Linked DNA regions of Homo sapiens: region 1 is linked to region 2. Evidence: fine-mapped expression QTL. Tissue or cell type: whole blood. Region 2 holds a variant in brackets; the other region holds the start of a gene. All regions are shown on one strand. Distances are from middle to middle.

Region 1 (2,679 bases), 54 kb before region 2:
GACTGATGCCAGAAGCCAAGCAATCATCCATTCTGCCACACTTTCCCACCTGTGGGCTCCTCCAGCGCAAGGCCAGCATCTTGCCCATCTCTGTGTCCCCCATAACGTTCTGTCCATGGCTGATGTTTAATGCTTACACGCCCACCTAAACTGATTTGAGGTGGATCGCCTCAAAGACCTACCTGAGTGCAATGCAAAGGTGACCTCGCTATCGTCGGGGCCCTCCATGCTGCCGACCACCCCTTCCTGGGGTTCTAGAACCCAGCCCTCTTCGTTGCCCTCTTCCTCCTCTTCTTCCTCAAAGTCCACATCTTCCATCTCCTGGGCCAGGTCATCTGCTTTGGGGAGAGGGTTAGAAGATGGGGCTCGGGAGGCGGTAAGAGGTACGGAGAGAAGCATGAGGAGGCCTGAGGCTGGGGCGGGTCATGTGGCGAGAAGGGAAGGTGGAGTCAGACACACCGGGGTCCGCGGGGGCGCGCGGGACACAGGACGGGAGGCCACGGCTGGCCAGAGACCGTGCGGTAAGGGAGGGCCAAGGGGATGATGGGAAGGGGGTGTGTGAGGGGAAGGGCCAGAGGAGGCGTCAGGGAACCCCCACCCCAGCCAGGCCTGAGAACTAAGTGTGAGGGTGGGAGTGGGGGAGGAGGGGAAGAGGGATATCGGTAGGAATGACCAGTCGGGTGTGGAGGGGAGCGGGGAAAAGCAGGAGTCAGAGGCCAGGGGTGAGCGTCTCCTGTCCCATGGCCTGAGGAGCGGCAGTTCTCACCTGGGTCCGGCGGACCGGGATCAAGTTCTACCACCTCGATAATCTCTTCATCACCATGGAAGCTTAGGGTCTCCAGTGGGGGGGTGTCAGCAGCAGCCCCGCTTTCCGATTCGGACTCCATGCGGCGCAAGCGGCGGATCCACTTCTCTGGGCCCAAACGCCTCCCAGAGTCAGCTCTGCGCGACGACGCGGAACTCGAGCCCCTCCTCCCGGCAGGAAGTAGGCGTAGGCGACTCCCCAGCAGGAAGAGCGACGGCCGTTCGGCCAATAGCTACGAAGGTTGGCTGGCCGCCTCACCAATCACAGAGCGGCATTGGAAGATGGGGCCGGGGCGTGGCGGAGAGAACCCAAACTCCGCCCCACCTGACTCCGCCCCCAACTGGAGGGAAACAAGCGAGCGCGCGCGCCTCCGGGGTCTCCTGGGAAGAGTAGTTCTCCTGGGTCCGCTCTGCGGGCTTCTGGGAGATGTAGTTTCTGGTCTGTAGGCAGGACGGAAGGAGCGGGGGAGGCCCCTTACGCAAACTACAATTCCCGGCGGGGAGCGCGGTGAAGCGGGGGTGGGATCTGAACATGGCGGCGGTGGTAGCTGCTACGGCGCTGAAGGGCCGGGGGGCGAGAAATGCCCGCGTCCTCCGGGGTAAGGAGAGGGACCCCGGGGAGGGCAGGACTGCAGAAGATCCCTTTTCTTTCACGTCCAGCCCGACGATAGCAGGAGGTCAGGGCTCTTGGTTCCTCCCCACACTTTTCTGCAAGATCTTAGAGTCTGGGGGTGCAGAGATGCTCTTTAGAGGTCACCCAGTGCATCCCCCCGCCTTCGGGTTGCTCGACACCTCCGGGGTCTTGCTGCAAGAGGGAGCTCCTAGGAAGCCTGTTGGACTCCCGCGCTCCAGGTGTTTCACACTCACCGCAGTGCAGAGGAAAGAGCCCCGGGCTTCTGGAGGTTTGAGTTCCAGCCCCGGATAATTAGCAGTTTGACCTTGGGCAAAGCAGTTTTTCTCTCAGGGCTTCAGTTTCCTCTTCCGTACAGTGCAAGGGATGGAGTAGACTATCTTTAAGGTCCCTTCCAGTGCTAACATTTGCAGTTTCAAAACCTTTTCCCGGATTTCCTTCATACGTCTTATGTGAGTCCCACTGCAGTCCTTCCCATGCTGTCGTCTGAGGAAGAACAGCGAAGCTTTTCGTCCTGGCACCAGGGTGATGAGCCCGCAGTGACGTGGAAGTGGCTTCCAAAGGTGCCACCTCGGTGGCGATTTTCCCATTTCCCTTTGGATTCTCCTTGGCACTTCTTACTTCAGACTGCAGTCACTCCCCTTCCCCAGATCTCAGCCGCTCCTCCCAAGCCCTTACTGCCCCCCACCTCCCCGCTTGCTTTCTTCTCATCTCTTCTTACTGACCTTCCTTACCTCCATCCACAGGGATTCTCGCAGGAGCCACAGCTAACAAGGCTTCTCATAACAGGACCCGGGCCCTGCAAAGCCACAGCTCCCCAGAGGGCAAGGAGGAACCTGAACCCCTATCCCCGGAGCTGGAATACATTCCCAGAAAGAGGGGCAAGAACCCCATGAAAGCTGTGGGACTGGCCTGGTGAGTTTTAACCACCCCTTTGCCCACCAACGGGGCGTGGCTTGTAGGGGAGGGCAGGACTTAGAAACTTCTCCAAGTTTCAGGTGGCGAGCTGAATCCAAAGTTGTGGGAACAGAATTGTTGGGTTCGATTGGAATCTCAGAGGGGTGGGGCAGTGGAGGTGGGAAAGTATGTGGAATTGAGAAGACAGTGGGTTTACTGTGGAGTAAGCTGAGTTGATCTGATTCAGACTTGGGTCCCTGGCCTCATCCTCCCTTTTGGGAGCTTGGAGTGAGACCCAAGTTTAAGTAAGTAGTTCGTTGAGATCATGTGAGCTTGTACTAGTTGTA
Region 2 (2,679 bases):
GCCTGGCAGAGTGCCAAGTACATAGGAGGAGCTAGAAAAGTAATTCGGCGAATGAATAAATCCATGAATGGCAGCTGACCCCGATGATCTCTCAGGTTTCTGCCAGTTGAGAAAGTGTAGCAGTGCCCTGGACGGGGAGGCGGGCGGGGCGAACTGCGAGCTCCTGCCCCTTCCCAGGGCTCAGGCGACTGTGGACCCCGATCAGCGCAGGCTCGCGGCCCGCTGTGGCCCCGCCTCCTGGCCGCCAGCCGGGCGGAGCCAGGCCGCCCCCCAAGCCGGGTGGCCTTCGGGGTGCTTGCCCGGCTGGAGGTGGTGAGGGGGCGGGTCCAAAGGAGAGGTCAATGGGCGGGGCGGGGCCACAACGCCCCCACGTCCAGAGCCGGCAGGCAGGTTCCCCGCGGGGGGCCGGGGCCGGGCCGTTGCCTAGCAACGCCGAGCCCCGCCCGGCCGGCGCGTGCCTGCCCCCAGCATGGCTTGGCAGGGCTGGCCCGCGGCGTGGCAGTGGGTCGCCGGCTGCTGGCTCCTCCTCGTCCTTGTCCTCGTCCTACTTGTGAGCCCCCGCGGCTGCCGAGCGCGGCGGGGCCTCCGCGGTCTGCTCATGGCGCACAGCCAGCGGCTGCTCTTCCGAATCGGGTTAGTGCCCGGGCTCCGAAGCGTGCGGGCTCGGGAGGCGGGCGCGCTGGGAGAGGGGACTGGGAGGCGGGGGCTGGAGCTGGGGGTGGGCGTGGCGGTTAGGAAGGGGCTTGGTCTAAGGGAAGAGGGATCGAGGAGACGGACTGGAGAAGCCACTGAGTTGGGGGGCCTGAGGGATTTGGGGGGCTGGACAATTGGGATAAGCTGGGGAAGGAGGATCGGAGAGGCGGGCCAGGGTGGCCACGGAAGGAGGGCGTGAGAGGACATCTGGAGCAAAGTGCCACAGAATGGGCTGGAGACCAGGAAGCTGGACAGGGGGATAGTGCAGGAGCCAGGGCTGGGAAGACCGTCCCTGTCCGGGGGTGAGGTCAGCAGATGCCCGGGCTCCGATGGCAAGTGCCGGAGAGAAGGAATGCCTCCCACCGTCTGACATTTAAAACCGCCAACTCCTTTCGTATGTCCTTGTCCCACTCCCCAGCATCCAACTCCTCACCAGTCAAGTTAGGTTCTTCTGTCCCAAGCAAGAGTCCCAACCCTGTTGGATTCCAGTATGTCCCTTTCCTTCTAACCAAAGCCTGGCCCGTGTGGAAGCCCCAGGCTGTGAAATCTGACCCAACTGACTCTGCCCACTTTTCCAGTGATTTGTCTCCGTCGACCCTCCCCCGCTCACTCTGCCCTCCTGC[C/T]TCCCTCTACCCCTTCCTTCCTGGCCCCAGGGGAGGGTGGTGCCTAGCAAGCACTGTTCAGCCCCAGGGACACTGAGAGGCAGGGAAGAAGACAGGCCTCCGAGGCCCCCTGTCCCCTTCCTACTACCAGCCTGGCCATGGGTCAGGACCTCAAGCCCCAGTTTAGGGACAGTAATGTTGGGGATGGGAATTGTGAGAGCCCTGGCCACAGGCCAGGTTGTGGGGAGAGCCTAAGCCTGGGAATTTCCCGAGCTTCCGAGCAGACATTGTGCAATTCACCCTCTCCTCCCCAGACCACCCCACACGCCCAGAAGCTTCAGGCGCAGGATTCCACTCACAGTCTAAGAAATGCAGATATAAAGGCAGGATAACTAGAAAAACATGGTGCTGGAGGGTGGGGTGGGGATCTTGTGTTTGTGCCTTTTGGGGCATTCACATCTCTAATATCCTAAACCTTGGTCGCAGTTTAGATAATGTGCCAAGTAAGTTACCATTGCTCTGCACGTTGCATTAAAATAATGAGATTGAAAAATATTTAGGCCAGGTGCGGTGGCTCACGCCTGTAATCCCAGCACTTTGGGAGGCTGAGGCAGGTGGCTCTCCTGAGGTCAGGAATTCGAGACCAGCCTGGCCAACATGGTGAAACGCCATCTCTACTAAAAATACAAAAATTAGCTGGGCACGGTGGTAAGCGCCTGTAATCCCAGCTACTCAGGAGGCTGAGGCAGGAAAATTGCTTGAAGCCGGGAGAGGGAGGTTGCAGTAAGCCGAGATCGCAGCCATTGCACTCCAGCCTGGGCGACAGAGTGAGACTCCGTCTCAAAAAACAAAAAAAAGAAAAAGAAAAAAAAATCCCAAACATGAAGGTATCTAAATAATTTTCTTTTTTTTTTTTTTTTTTTTTTTTTTTTGAGACGGAGTCTCGCTCTGTCACCCAGGCTGGAATGCAATGGCATGATCTCAGCATGGTGAAACAGGGTTTCACCGTGTTGGTCAGGCTGGTTGCAAACTCCTGACCTCATGATCTGCCCACCTCAGCCTCCCAAAGTGCTGGGATTACAGGCATGAGCCACCGCACCCGGCCTTTTTTTTTTTTTTTTTTTTTTTTGAGACGGGCTCTTGCTCTGTTCCCTAGGCTGGAGTGGTGCAGTGGCACAATCTCAGCTCACTGCAACCTCCGCCTCCCGGGTTCAAGCAATTCTCCTGCCTCAGCCTCCTGAGTAGCTGCGACTACAGGCACCTGCTACCATACCCAGCTAATTTTTGTATTTTCAGTAGAGATGGGGTTTCATCATGTTGGTCAGGCTGGTCTTCAACTCCTGACCTCATGATCTGCCCACCTTGGCCTCCCAAAGTGCTGGGA

The links. PIP is the estimated chance that this variant, and not a neighbour inherited with it, causes the effect.
Region 1: PNKD starts here. The variant in region 2 is fine-mapped to the expression of PNKD in whole blood (INTERVAL, PIP above 0.99). The same link has a PIP of 0.9 or more in blood mononuclear cells.

What each region holds. Positions count from the first base shown.
Region 1 is chr2:218,269,200-218,271,878 of GRCh38, forward strand. PNKD (PNKD metallo-beta-lactamase domain containing) reads left to right here and starts at 1,320. Exons shown (of 10, transcript NM_015488.5): 1 at 1,320-1,403; 2 at 2,182-2,350. The coding sequence starts at 1,337. AAMP (angio associated migratory cell protein) reads right to left here and starts at 938. Exons shown (of 11, transcript NM_001087.5): 1 at 767-938; 2 at 183-335. The coding sequence starts at 887. RefSeq lists enhancers at 1-116, 685-1,004, 1,155-1,534, 1,565-1,614.
Region 2 is chr2:218,322,799-218,325,477 of GRCh38, forward strand. All of the region lies in intron 2 of PNKD (PNKD metallo-beta-lactamase domain containing), which reads left to right. Among named protein-coding and RNA genes, the nearest start is that of MIR6810, 18 kb to the right of the region's middle. RefSeq lists a silencer at 78-597 and an enhancer at 80-675. The variant C/T (reference allele first, on the strand shown) is at 1,317.